Homo sapiens: one gene and its partners. The protein of the gene in region 3 purifies or fractionates together with the protein of the main gene of each other region. This does not show direct contact. Each region holds a gene or a part of one and is shown on either strand. Other genes may lie near its edges.

What was found. The genes of interacting proteins can lie anywhere in the genome.
Region 1: the proteins of FAM177A1 (region 3) and RIOK1 purify together in Homo sapiens (affinity purification with mass spectrometry; 2 studies listed by BioGRID and IntAct, with this or other methods). This does not show direct contact.
Region 2: the proteins of FAM177A1 (region 3) and UFSP2 purify together in Homo sapiens (affinity purification with mass spectrometry; 3 studies listed by BioGRID and IntAct, with this or other methods). This does not show direct contact.
Region 4: the proteins of FAM177A1 (region 3) and NAPG purify together in Homo sapiens (affinity purification with mass spectrometry; 2 studies listed by BioGRID and IntAct, with this or other methods). This does not show direct contact.

What each region holds. Positions count from the first base shown.
Region 1 is NC_000006.12:7,403,194-7,406,807, forward strand, and holds part of RIOK1 (serine/threonine-protein kinase RIO1), read left to right. Parts: intron 1-747; coding exon 748-834; intron 835-1,224; coding exon 1,225-1,362; intron 1,363-1,724; coding exon 1,725-1,828; intron 1,829-2,055; coding exon 2,056-2,162; intron 2,163-3,614. UniProt on the Homo sapiens protein: Involved in the final steps of cytoplasmic maturation of the 40S ribosomal subunit. Involved in processing of 18S-E pre-rRNA to the mature 18S rRNA. Required for the recycling of NOB1 and PNO1 from the late 40S precursor.
Region 2 is NC_000004.12:185,399,037-185,402,078, forward strand, and holds the end of UFSP2 (ufm1-specific protease 2), read right to left. Parts: intron 1,688-3,042; exon of another isoform or gene 1,443-1,687; coding exon 1,356-1,442; 3' UTR 982-1,355; coding exon of another isoform or gene 981-981; 3' UTR 742-980; coding exon of another isoform or gene 534-741; 3' UTR 501-533; downstream 1-500. Other genes in the region: ANKRD37 (ankyrin repeat domain-containing protein 37), read left to right, coding at 534-741. UniProt on the Homo sapiens protein: Thiol-dependent isopeptidase that specifically cleaves UFM1, a ubiquitin-like modifier protein, from conjugated proteins, such as CD274/PD-L1, CYB5R3, DDRGK1, MRE11, RPL26/uL24, TRIP4 and RPL26/uL24.
Region 3 is NC_000014.9:35,070,223-35,073,836, reverse strand, and holds part of FAM177A1 (protein FAM177A1 isoform 1 precursor), read right to left. Parts: intron 1-3,614.
Region 4 is NC_000018.10:10,539,413-10,543,026, forward strand, and holds part of NAPG (gamma-soluble NSF attachment protein), read left to right. Parts: intron 1-349; coding exon 350-459; intron 460-575; coding exon 576-642; intron 643-916; coding exon 917-987; intron 988-3,614. UniProt on the Homo sapiens protein: Required for vesicular transport between the endoplasmic reticulum and the Golgi apparatus.

The sequences.
Region 1 (3,614 bases), on a different chromosome or scaffold from region 3:
AATTTATACTGAGGATAATAAGGAACTGCTAAAGGATTTTAATCAGGAAAGTGACACAATCAGATGGTTATAATGCTCTGTCATGTTTTCGTAGGTATTGGAGTTTTCGACTAATCTTGTTAGGTCGTGAACTCTTTGTTTATCATAGTTTCCTTTTCTTAGTCCAGTTTTGGACACTTTTTTTATATTCTTTGTTTGCACTAACACCTTTTTATCAGGTAAAGGCCTCATCTAGTTGAGATCAAGTTTCCTGAAAATTATGGAGTTTTAAAAAATGTCTTATAACTTTTTATATGGTGTACACAGGTGACACATTGGATAGTGTAGTATTGAGCAAGTACTACTCGTTTTGAAAGTCTTTTGTGTTCAACAAGCTATTAGGTGTGAGTCCAACTATTTTTATTAAGCATTTTTCAGGCTATTCAACACAAAAGATACTTGTGGACCTATCTCCTCTATTTCCTCCATTGTAAGATGCACATTTTTTTCAGTTTAACATCTCTGGAATTGCTTTGGGTATTACAGGTTATGGGATGTAATAGTTGAATTGCTAGTGTTTTATCATTCTCGGTGGTACATAATGGTGCCACTTAAAATAATCTTAGAGTTTATGAAATATTATAATACATTTGAGAGGCCTTGGTGCTATTTCTTAACAGCAATATTAATCTTGGGACCTGCAGTTGTAATTTATTTAGATGCCTTTTCAACTTTTCAGTTGTCCTTTTATTTGTTATAATATCACAGGCTAAACACAGCAGAGATACCATGTCCAGAACCAATAATGCTAAGAAGTCATGTTCTTGTCATGAGTTTCATCGGTAAAGATGACATGTAAGTACATGGAAGGGCTAATAATTGCATTCTCAGAACTGTATTTTTAAGTTCTTTGAGTTTATCCACTATATGAATATTTCCCATTTGAATAACTTATTAATCTTTCCCACTATATTAGTGAATAAGTGTTATCAATGTATTCTACCTTTTCAAGTCTGAAAATGCTTCAGAATGAGGAGCAAGTTAGTCCTGTGTTGGAGGGTGGTCTTATACAGTGTGTTGGGAAAGCATCTATTTGCCGGTACCTTCTTGGTTTATGTGCATTGAGACAGATTGTCCCACATACAGCTCACATGATGAGTTGTAGAAGAGAAGGGCATGTAACAGTATAGTAAGAAGCAAGAAAACTTGTTCTTGGTCATTTTATCTTAGTTCTTTTCATTCAAGGCCTGCACCACTCTTGAAAAATGTCCAGTTATCAGAATCCAAGGCTCGGGAGTTGTACCTGCAGGTCATTCAGTACATGAGAAGAATGTATCAGGATGCCAGACTTGTCCATGCAGATCTCAGTGAATTTAACATGCTGTGAGTGTATTTTGTCTCTTAAGAACTGCCTGTCAGTTGTTTCGTGTCCTTTAAAATGATAAACAAAATCCCAATCCAAGAAGTCACACTAACTTCTGAAGTTTTATTGTTGACTTCCAAATGGTATAAGATAGGATTCCTTTTTTCAGTGACCTTAGTCACCGAATTGACTGCTTGGATCATTAACAGTGAATGGATTTTGGAAATTTTCCCAGTTCCATCTGTTAGTCAAGATTGCCTCATCTTATCTACCTTGGTGATTTTGTGAGCTACTTCCCTTGCTTTTAAGAGTAGAATTTATTTTAAACGAAAAACATAGTAAAGTAATACCATCCCACAGCTTCTGTGTCTCTGGCCCATAGGTACCACGGTGGAGGCGTGTATATCATTGACGTGTCTCAGTCCGTGGAGCACGACCACCCACATGCCTTGGAGTTCTTGAGAAAGGATTGCGCCAACGTCAATGGTGAGTAGAAACGGCAATTTTCGAAACAGCTCATTGGTCTGTTTTGGTTTTGTACTCAGTTAAGCTGTTGGCGTAAAATTTTCTCACTAAATTGTTTGGTGCAGTGATGCTTAAACCATTTGCTGGGAGATGGTATGTAATTTTATCTCCTTGTTTCTCTATAAGGTAGTTGGAATAATAATATTTTTCCTCATAAAAGCTGTCATTAACGTTTTTCCTTCTGACAGATTTCTTTATGAGGCACAGTGTTGCTGTCATGACTGTGCGGGAGCTCTTTGAATTTGTCACAGATCCATCCATTACACATGAGAACATGGATGCTTATCTCTCAAAGGTAAGATGGGGAGAGGAAGGAGGAATAGGAAATAGCAGTACAGGTGCAGTATCTCTTATCTCAAGTGCTTGGGACCAGAAGTGTTTTGGATTTTGGATTTTTTCCAGTTTTGAAATATCTGCCTTGTACTTACCCTAGTTGAGCATCCGAAATATCAAAATCCAAAATCCTCACTGCTCCATTTCACATTTCATTTGAGCATAATGTTGGTGCTCAAAAAGTTTCGGATTTTGGAGTATTTCAGATTTTTGATTTTTAGATTTGGGATGCTAACCAGTAATTGCATTTGCTTGACACTTCTGAGGGACCCAGATTGCATAGTGTAGTTTATTCATTTTGACAGCTTCCTGAGACCTTTTCCTTCCTACTTAACAGATGAAGAATCAAAAATACAGCACAACAGCCAATGGTAAAGCCAGGGGTTTTTTTTTTTTCCTTTTTTTTTTTTTTTTCTTCTCCTGAGTCAACTTGATATCCAAGCTTTTTACTTCAATTATCTGGCAAGATTACATAGACTGTCAAAGTTTGTGAAAGTTTAGCAAGAAAACTGTCAGTTTTTTGGTCATTAATTCTTTTCCCTTGTTTCTCAGGGGCCTTTCTCTTTTTTTCTTTTCTTTCTTTTTCTTTTTTCTTTTCTTTCTTTCTTTTTTTTTCTTTTTTGAGACAGGATCCCACTCTGTCACGCAGGCTGGAACATAGTGGCGCACTCTTGGTTCACTGCAACCTCTGCCCCTCAGGGTCAAGTGATCCTCCCAGCTCAGTCTCCGAGTAGCTAGGACTACAGGCACACGCCACCACACCTAGCTAATTTTTATATTTTTTGTAGAGACAGGGTTTCATCATGTTGCCCAGGCTAGTCTTGAAATCTTGGCCTCAGGTGACCCACCTGCCTCAGCCTCCCAAAGTGCTGGGATTACAGGTGTGAGCCACGACGCCCGGCCTCAGAGGCCTTTCTGAATATAGAATTTTTTAGAATTCTGGTAAAAGACATAATATAAAATTTAATGCTTTAACCATTTGAATGTATGGTTCAGTGGCATTAAGTACATTCACATTGTGGTACAAACTATCACCACTGTCTATCTCCACACCTGTTACATCATCCCAAACTGATATTCTGTACCCATTAAGTAACAACTTCCCATCCCCTGGCAATCACCATTCTACTTTCTGTCTTTGTGAATTCACCTACTCTAGGTACCTCTTATAAGTGGAATCATATAGTATTTGTCTTTTTGTGTCTGGCTTATTTCACTTAGTATGATGTCTTCAAGATTCATCCATGTTATAGCATGTGACAGGATATCTTTTTCTTTTTTTGTTTGAGACAGGGTCTCACTCTGTCACCAGGCTAGAGTGCAGTGGCGTGATCTTGGCTCACTGCAACCTCTGCCTTCGGGTTCAAGCAATTCTACCACCCTGGCCTCCCTGAGTAGCTGGGACTACAGGTGC
Region 2 (3,042 bases), on a different chromosome or scaffold from region 3:
GAAAACAGTGGCTTCACATTTTATGTTTTCTTGGATTAAACTAATCAGACTCCTGAAGCTTAGTTACATGTGCTTTTAAAAATAATGCTTGCGTAATTGATAATTTAGTGTTAATCATTTAAATGTTAACTTAGGTTGTTGGTGCTATCGAATAATACTCAGTTCGAGTAAGTAAAAAGTCAGATCCTGAGCAATCAGAGGTGCAATTTTGTTCATTATGACTGTATTCTACTTCAGTTTCGGTTCAGGAAAACCCATTCTATAGTTCCCATTGACTACCTTTGGGTACTCATACACTGTATTAAACATCAGATAATTCTAACATTCATTCAGAACTGGAATGCCCGCTCTATGCTGGATTCTGTTAGTTGCTGAGGATACAATAGTGACCAAAAATGCAATTTCCTTATGCATCCTTTACCTCTTCTGTTCTGCAACCAACATTTGTATGAGCCCAAAATTCCCTTGTAAGATATAAAAAAAAAGACTTAAGTTCAATGTTTCATTTCACTCCGTTTTTATCCTGTTTTCAGTTTATGTAATAAGAACGGGCAAACAGCTGAAGATCTCGCTTGGTCATGTGGATTTCCAGACTGTGCCAAGTTTCTTACAACAATTAAATGTATGCAGACAATAAAAGCAAGTGAACACCCTGACAGGAATGATTGTGTTGCCGTGCTCAGACAGAAACGGAGTCTCGGAAGTGTAGAAAATACCAGTGGGAAAAGGAAGTGCTGGTAAGTAACTCAGAGCTGCTGCTTTTTTCCTCCCGCAGTGATCTCTTGTTTGCATAGCATTTATTATTCCATTTAATACTGACACTCGTATTTCTAGTAGTATTGTTTCATTCTCATTAACATTTTAGTACTGGTTATACTTACCAGAGTCTAGAGACCAAAAATGGGACTGCATGGTGGAAGTTTGGGGATAAAACTCTTTTTAAAAAAAAGTTTTTAATGTTAACGTGTTTTTAAAAACAGATGTCACGTGGGTTATGAAGAAGTCTGAAGAACGCCTTCATTTCATGCAAATCTATAAGCTCCTGCTTTTGGCTTTACCATATGTTGTGTCTAATCTCCTTCTGAGAAGGACGAAAAACTTTCTTCCAAGTGAAGATCCATTTAAGAACACATGTATTTACATGCCTATAATATGCTGGTTGTGTATGCTTTGTCTTTTAAGTTATTAAAGGAACGTCTAAAAAATACATTCTCCGTGCAGTATTTACAACCTTTGAAAAAGGTCATAATTTAAATCGTCAAACTAGAACCAGGATTTAATGTGAAAAATTAAACTGATTCTTTATTCACAAATTTATAATACCACTCTACTGCAGTCTTTGACTCCAAGATATTTTAAATCATATTTGGTCGCTGAGGAAGACATAAGTTATAGTATGCATCCTTGTTCCAAAAATCTGGGCCCTTCCATCCGCACCAGCCCTGGATAGAGAAGACGGGAAAGGAAAGCCTTTTACAAAGTTACAAGATTATGTCATGGAAATCGTGACATCAGGCTCTGTCAGCAGGACCTTGGAATAAGACTCTAAATGGCTTTATCATTCAAGGATTTGAATTCCTACTAGCATAGAAAAGTAACGTATCTTACCCTTTAAGGTAGGTTTTTGAACTTTTAATTCTATGTATGTAATTCATCATAAAAATCATTAAAAAAAATTTACCTGTAACTGTTATTCCAGATACCACACTTTACTGATTCTGAGATGTATAGTTTTACCACTTGCAACTGATAGCATGTGACAATTGAACTAGCAATCTGTTTTTCTTAATAGTCCATAAAGGACTGTAAGAGACCATTCAGTGGCATCTTAGGATTGAAGTACTGTAGTGAGAAACCTCAGCTTGCCCCCTGCCTGGCACTCTGTGCCCTTTCATTTTCAAATTCCAGGTGTTACTCAATTCTACTTCCCATGTTTCATGTCAGTATTAATCCTTTTTGCCAGCAGAGAAAATTACTTTCAAGCAAAATCTCATTTAGAGTATGAAAATTTCTCAGATTTCTCCTAGGGCCACTGAGTTATTTTATTAAAGAAGAAAACTTAAAAGCCAATAACTGGTCTGTATTATATGATTCTTAAATGCTTTGAGAAATCCTTGCAAGGAGGCTGAGACTCTGAAAATACCATGAAGTGAGTGACAAGCAGCGGTCTGACTCCCTCCTAATAAGATACACGTTGTCAAAAAACAAGATAAAAGTAAAAAATCCTCTACCAGTCCTAGGTAATCCCCCACTCTCCCTAGGTAACCAGCATTCTATTAATCATCTCATTTTTTCAGCAAAACTTTCTCTATTAATTTAATGTCCTAAAATCTGTTCTCTTAACAGACAGAGAAAAAAGGCTCATTCTGTTTTAACCTTTTTTTGATCCTTTTACACATGAAGGCCTTGTCCAGGTAACCAGATCCAGATTTTTTAAAGGAGAAATTGGTAGAGAGGGTGTCAGAATGGGATTGCATAGGGACATAGTGCATAGGACATGCTTCTTTCCTGTGAGATGACCAGCATGGGAACTTCAAACAGGAAAGCACCACAAGAAGGCAAAGAGGTCAGGCAGAGATGGAACTCTCCTCTGGCCTCCTGGGTTCCTGGAGTCAAGTGAATCAATAGTTTTAATGGCAGGACCTTGGCTGCACAGTTTCTTGTGTATACAAATAGAGCAAGGAGGTTTCTGCTGTTGAAAAGTTCTATAGAAATAGAACTAGCAAAGATGGAGATTGCAATTCTCAGAGAAAGAAATCAGGGACAATCCCTTACTCTAATTGTTCAGAAACCTTACCTAGATAATGCCATGTAGTGCAGAGCCCCTTGAGTCAACCAGAAAAGAGAAATTTGATGATGAAAATAATTAAGGCTTCTCCCTGCCTTTAAGAAAAAATCGAAATGCCTGGTTCACAAAGACCACCCTTTCTGACTGAGCTTGGTGTGTCCTTCCAGCCTCACCTCTTCGCCTAGCTCTGGACGCACTGATCTACCTGCAGTGCGGCTTTCACTGTTTCTACAAGGCAGGGGCCACCACAGCAC
Region 3 (3,614 bases):
AAGAGAGGCAAGCACCAGGATTCAAGGCAGAAAGGGATAGGCTAACTCTACTATTTTGTACAAATGCAGTCCGGTTTATGATTAGGACTGCCCTTATCTATAAAGCTGCTAGCCCCCAAGCCTTAAAGGAAAAAGATAAACACCAGCTACCAGTCTTTTGTCTGTACTTGTCAAGGCCTAGACAACAAGAACCCTTTTCCTGGATTGGTTCCATCAATGCTTTGTCCCTGAAGTCAGGAAGTATTCTGTTAATAAGGGACTGCCTTTTAAAATTCTTTTGTTATTGGACAATGCTCCTGGCCACCCAGAACCCCACAAGTTCAACACTGAAGGTGTCAAAGTGTTGTACTTGCCCCCAAACACAACATCTCTAGTTCAGCCTCTGGATCAGGGGTCATAAGGACCTTTAAGGCTCATTACACACAGTACTCTATGGAAAGCATTGTTGATGCCATAGAAGAGAACCCTGGGCAGTGTGGTGGCTTACGCCTATAATCCCAGTACTTCAGGAGGCTGAGGCGGGCAGATTACCTGAGCTCAGGATTTTGCGACCAGCCTGGGCAACATGGTGAAACCCTGTCTTTACTAAAATACAAAATATTAGCTGGGCATGGCAGCGTGCACCTGTAGTCCAGCTACTTGGGAGGCTGAGGCAGGAGAATTGCTTGAACCCAGGAGATGGAGGTTGCAGTGAGCCAAGATCACGCCACTGCACTCCAGCCTGGGTGACAGCGAGACTCCGTCTCAAAAAAAAGAAGAAGAAGAAGAAGAAGAGAACCCTGATAAAGAAAACATCATGAAAGTCTGGAAGGATTACACCACTGAAGATGCCATTGTTATAGAAAAAGCTGTGAAAGACATCAACACGAAACAAATTTCTGCTGGAGAAAACTGTGCCCAAGTGTTGTGCACATCTTCACAGGATTTACGACAGAGCCAATCAATGAAATCATGAAAGATATGGTAGATATGAAAGGAAAGGGGGGGTGGAGGGTGGAGCGTTTCAAAATTTGGATCTCGGAGAAATTCAAGAGCTAACAGACACAACACCAGAGATATTAACAGAAAATGGCTTGATAGAGATGAGTGCCTCCAAACCACTGCCAGATAATGAAGAAGATGTAAAAGCAGCAGTGCCAGAAAAGAAACTGACATTAGACAATCTGGCAGAAGGGCTCCGATTTTTCAAGACTACTTGACTTCTTTTACAACATGGACCCTTCTATACAGGCAATGAAACTAAAGCAAATGGTGGGAAAAGAACTGTTACCACCTAAAACAATTTTTAGAGAAATAAAAAAGTAAAACAGTCAGACAGAAATTACTACGTATTTCCATGAAGTCACAGCAAGTACGCCTTTCTCTCTTGCCTCCCCTTCCACCTCCTGCCATGCCTAACACAGCAAGACCAACCCCTCCTCTTCCTCCTCAGCCTACTCAATGTGAAGACAATGAGGAAGAAGACTTATGATGATGATCCACTTCCCACTTAATGAATAGTAAATATATTTTCTCTTCCTTATAATTTTCTTAACCCTTTTTCCTTTCCTTTCCCCTTTCCTTTCTTTTATCTTTTCTTTGTCACCCAGGCTGGAGTGCAATGTTGCGATCTCGGCTCACTGCAACCTCCGCCTCCCAGGTTCAAGTGATTCTCCTGCCTCAGACTCCCGAGTAGCTGGGACTACAGGTGCCCAACACCACATCCGGCTAATTTTTGTATTTTTAGTAGAGATGGGGTTTCACTATATTGGCCAGGCTGGTCTCAAACTCCTGACCTTGTGATCTGCCCACCTCAGCCTCCCAAAGTGCTGGGATTACAGGCATGAGCCACCACGCCTAGCCAACATTTTCTTTTCTATAGCTTACTTTATTGTAAGAATAGAGCATATAATACATATAACATAAGAAATATGTGTTAATTGACTTTATGCTCTAGGTAAGGCTTCCAGTCAACACTAGGCTATTAGCAATTTAGTTTGGGGGGAATAAAAAGTTATAGGCAGATTTTCAACTGTGCAGGGTAGTTGGGGGGTCACACCCCTAAACTTCACATTGTTCAAGGTTCAACTGTAAATATGTTTCTCAGTGGACCAATTCTCCTGGGGTTGTTTCTGGCGAGAATAATTGATAATATCCAAGCTATGACTACCAAAGAATCAAATCTGCTCCAGAGCTGAAAAACAGGTTAATAATTCCTGAATAACATTTATCATCATCCCACACAACTATACAGAATGAATATATAGGGCCCTTTGTTTGAACATTGACTTGATTGAATCAAAAAAAAGAAGTAGCTAGAGTCTATGCCAGAATTCCACCACCTAGACTATCCCAGTAATAGCAAAACTGGGACAAGATCTTGTGTCTTCAAGACTTCTTGTATATAGTGCTAAAACTCAAAATGATTCATTTTTCCTCCAAAAATATAAGTATCTCTTCCTTCCCTATTAAGACCTACTACCTTTTCTTATTAAAACAATTTATTTTCAGATTATAAAAGTCATATTTATTTGTTGTAGAACACTTAGAAAATGGAGGTCGGCCGGGTGCAGTGGCTCACGCCTGTAATCCCAGCACTTTGGGAGGCCGAGGAGGGTGGATCACGAGGTCAAGAGATCGAGACCATCCTGGCTAACACGGTGAAACCCTGTCTCTAAAAAAAAATACAAAAAATCAGCCGGGCGTGGTGGCAGGTGCCTGTAGTCCCAGCTACTCAGGAGGCTGAGGCAGAAGAATGGCGTGAACCTGGGAGGCGGAGCTTGCAGTGAGCTGAGATCGCACCACTGCACTCCAGCATGGGCAACAGAGCAAGACTCCGTCTCAAAAAAAAAAAGAAAGAAAGAAAGAAAGAAAATGGAGGTCAATATAAGAAAAATGTAATTCACCCATTTTCCACCACCTAGAAATAATTATCCAAATATCAGGGTACCTTTCCAGTCTTTTCCTGAGCATACACTTATTTTTACAACATTGTTGTCCCTTACATATTTTCTCTATCCTATTTTTCCACATGTATTATATCATATTAATATAATTATAATATTAAGCCTATTTACTTAATCTGCTTAAATTCCTAAAGGTGGAATTAACTAGGCCAAAAATATAATCATTTAGGAAGCTCTTCATTCACATTGCAAAACTTCACACTAGAAAATTTGCCTATAAATATGCAGTAGCAATGTATGTGATTGTCCATTAACTTGTAGCTCCGCCGGGTGTGGTGGCTCACGCCTGTAATCCCAGCACTTTGGGAGGCCAAGGTGGGCAGATAACAAGGTCAGGAGTTCGAGACCAGCCTGACCAACATGGTGAAACCCTGTCTCTACCAAAAATACAAAAATTAGCCAGGTGTGGTAGCATGCACCTGTAGTCCCAGCTACTTGGGAAGCTGAGGCAGGAGAATTGCTTGAATCCGGGAGGCTGAGGTTGCAGCGAGGCGAGATCATGCCACTGCACTCCAGCCTGGACGACAGAGCGAGACTCCGACGCAAAGAAAAAAAAAATATTGTTATAGGCCGGACACGGTGGCTCATGCCTGTAATCCCAGCACTTTCGGAGGCTGAGGCGGGTGGATCACGAGGTCAGGAGATCGAGATCATCCTGGCCAACATGTA
Region 4 (3,614 bases), on a different chromosome or scaffold from region 3:
CAGAAAACCAAACACCGCATGTTCTCACTCATACGTGGGAATTGAACCACAAGGACACATGGACACAGGGAGGGGAACATCACACTCCTGGGCCTGTCGGGGGCTGGGGAATAAGGGGAGGGAGAGCACTAGGACAAATACCTAATGCATGCGGGGCTTAAAACCTAGATGATGGGTTGATAGGTATAGCAAACCACCATGGGACATGTATACCTATGTAACAAACCTGCACATTCTGCACATGTGTCCCAGAACTTAAAATAAAAAATAATTGCATTTCAGATTGTTAACTCTGTTTTTCTTTAATTGATGCATTTGCTGACCTGTCTACTGTATCCTTTGCCCAAAGGAGATGCAGAAACTACCAGAGGCCGTTCAGCTAATTGAGAAGGCCAGCATGATGTATCTAGAAAACGGCACCCCAGACACAGCAGCCATGGCTTTGGAGCGAGCTGGAAAGTGAGTGTGAGATGGACAAGTCTCTGCATAGAAGTCTTGTCTTTTTGTTTTAAAGAGGTCCCTGAAAAACAAGTTTTCCATTTCTCATATAAGACATGTTTTCTTGTCTGATTCAGGCTTATAGAAAATGTTGATCCAGAGAAGGCTGTACAGTTATATCAACAGACAGCTAATGTGTTTGAAGTAAGTTTGAATCTTATTTTTTTCTTTAATTACTTAGAATGTTTAGATTAATAATATATAGGAAAATAGAGAAGTGCAGTGGCTACTTTTAAAACTTTTCCCTGCTCACAGTTGCACGCTATTTCTTTTCTGTTAGAGAGTAGTGAAATGAACTAGCAGCTTTCGTGTTCCCCCCTTGATCCAGTGCCATTACTTCTTTACAAAATAAATATTAGGGGATAAAAACATTTCAACATTAAAGCAGCCAACACTTGTTTTTCTTTGATTCCTTCAGAATGAAGAACGCTTACGACAGGCAGTTGAATTACTAGGAAAAGCCTCCAGACTACTAGTACGAGGACGTAGGTATGTCTTTAAAAACTATTGCTGTGTGTTTAACTATACTTTGAATCCACATTTGGAACTGGAAAGTAATTTGGGGGATAGCTTGTTAATTTTTTGGTATAAGCTGTAGACACACCAGGCCACACAATAGAATATTAACATTTACTAGACAGTAGGCACACTGAATTAGATATTAAAAGATCTGCTGTTTTTTGAAAGTGTAATGCCCAAATTTATCATGCACTGTGCTTTTATTGGTTGAACCCTGGCTCAGCAACATGAAAGGGAACAGTTTCCTTCATCTGTTACTTGGTTGGATTATAATATCTCTCTCAAGGAAAAATAAGAATATTAGGATAAATGACAAAGATGCATAAACACTCACCCATGAAAACTGACAGGTTCTTGACAAATAGTGTCATTATTAGAATATTTACCTTGTTATCGTTTCACATATGACCTGAAGCACAAATAGTTGAACCTCAGAAAGCTAAAATCCTATTGGGATTTCCTTTTGTTTTTTTACTTTATCTCAGTTTACTTTTAGTAAACAATTTTTTTCATTAATAAAATTCTGTCTCAATAATATTTAAGATAAACATCTCTAGGAGATTGTAAGTCTGCAGATATCTTAATTGAAATTTGTCCAAAGCTTCCCAGTAACAGAAAACACCCAAGATCCATTTAATATGTCAAGGAATCAAAATAGAAATGACTGATGAATCTATCCTATCTGAGACTGAATTAAATTTTTTCTTCATGAAGACTGCAGATTCTGAAATACAATTTAAACCGGTCTAGAGTAATATGAGAATAAATTAATCTAGAATTAACTATTAAACAATCTCATTTAGATTAATTTGTTTATAGGACCTTCCTTCACTGAGGAGTATTTTTTTGTCTAAATGGAATAGAAATTTCATTTTGTTTTTAAATTAGGACTTTAATCATGAAGGAAAGTTTAATTTAAATGTCAGTCCGGGGTCATTATCTTTATTCATCTTATTACTTACTCGTCGCTTCCCAGAAATCAGTGAATGAAATGCTAACTCTGACAAATCCCAACTTAAAAATGGTTCACTTTAGTTTCTGAAAGTGTTTGTTACAGCAGCAGAGCTGTTCTTGGTGATGGCGTTATGGCTGTGGCAAAATAGCTGAACTGTGAGGTGATACCAAGGTTCTGACTTGTGAGCAGGGGCCCCATGTCTTAGAAACAGTGTCCTTCATTCTTTTCAGGGCAGCTAGGAGGCAAGTTTTAGCATAGTTTACCTCCTTTCTCTTCTGTTCTCATCTCCTGATGCTCCCCGACAAGACTCCCAGTGCCTTTCTAGAGCGCTAAGCCCCTTACTATAAGACCCCATGGAAGGTGAAGGAAGTGAAGTTGCAGGAAGGGGCAGAAGTTAAGGACAGCCCTGTGTGAAAGTCCAGACTGCATCAGCTCCCCTGAAGTATTTCTGCTTTCCACATCTTCTTTCCTTTTGTTTCTCAAGGTATAGATTATCTAAAGCTGTGTTGTAGAGGGAGTAGCAGGAAAGGAGAGAGGCCAGGATCTTTTCGGGGGAGGTCAGATGAGGAACGTTTTCCAGCTGCCTGTGCATATTCCTTTAGAAAGCTCCACTAGGGATGGGGGCCACCATCATCCTCAAAACATTACCAGTGTTGCCAGTCGGTTTGGACACATCTGATGAAAGCCATTGTTTTAAAGCAATTACTGTGTTAAATTCTTCAAAGCCTCAGCAGAGGGGAGAATGCTAGTTGAGTGAGCAGCAGAAGTGAGAATGCTGCGTAGATGTGCTCAAAGGGCACATTTATAAATCCAGGGCTTTTATTCGTGACTTTGTTTTATTGGTTTTTTTTTTTTCTTTTTAGGAAAAATGTATTTTAAAATGGTACTTTCTACTGTGCTCAACAAAAATGTTATGGAAATATATTTTTGAAGTGTATTAACAATATAAAAATTAATTTAAATTTGTGCAGGAACATGAAGGAATTTGATCTTTTGAAAAGTGTTGCTGGGTATCTTGGTATGAAAAAATTAAGTCTACTGTCATGGTACTTCTATTGGGAACTTAAATAGTGCAGGATAAGAAAAAACATGCAGTGTTTATAGTGATGGAGACATTATTGAGATGATTTATGTGATAATTGAAAATATTAACTATGTGCTTAGATTATTATTTGATTGCATCTGTTGCCTAAAAGAACTAAACAGGTGGTAATTTTATGCTTCACACAAGCAACATCTACTAATAGACTGTGTGGCATGGAGTCTAAAGTTTTATGTTTGTTATATTTAGTTAGTGCACTTATGTTTTTACATTAACATGAGTCCATAAGATGTCCTAATTTAATACTTTCTATGTTAGTGTAGCAAAGAATCTATTTAATATATTAATCTCTTGCTTCTCCTTCAGTTTTGGAGAGTCAAAATTCAGAAGTGATTCGTAGTTTCATTTAGATTACATCTGGGAAAAGTCAGTCCAAGGCCAGTGCCCTTGTTCCTTTTTAGAAAAGGCCTTTCCAGGCTGGGTGCAGTGGCTCATGCCTGTAATCACAACACTTTGGGAGGCTGAGGCAGGCAGATCACCTGAGGTCAGAAGTTCAAGATTAGCCTTGGCCAAATGGTGAAACTCCTTCTCTACTAAAAA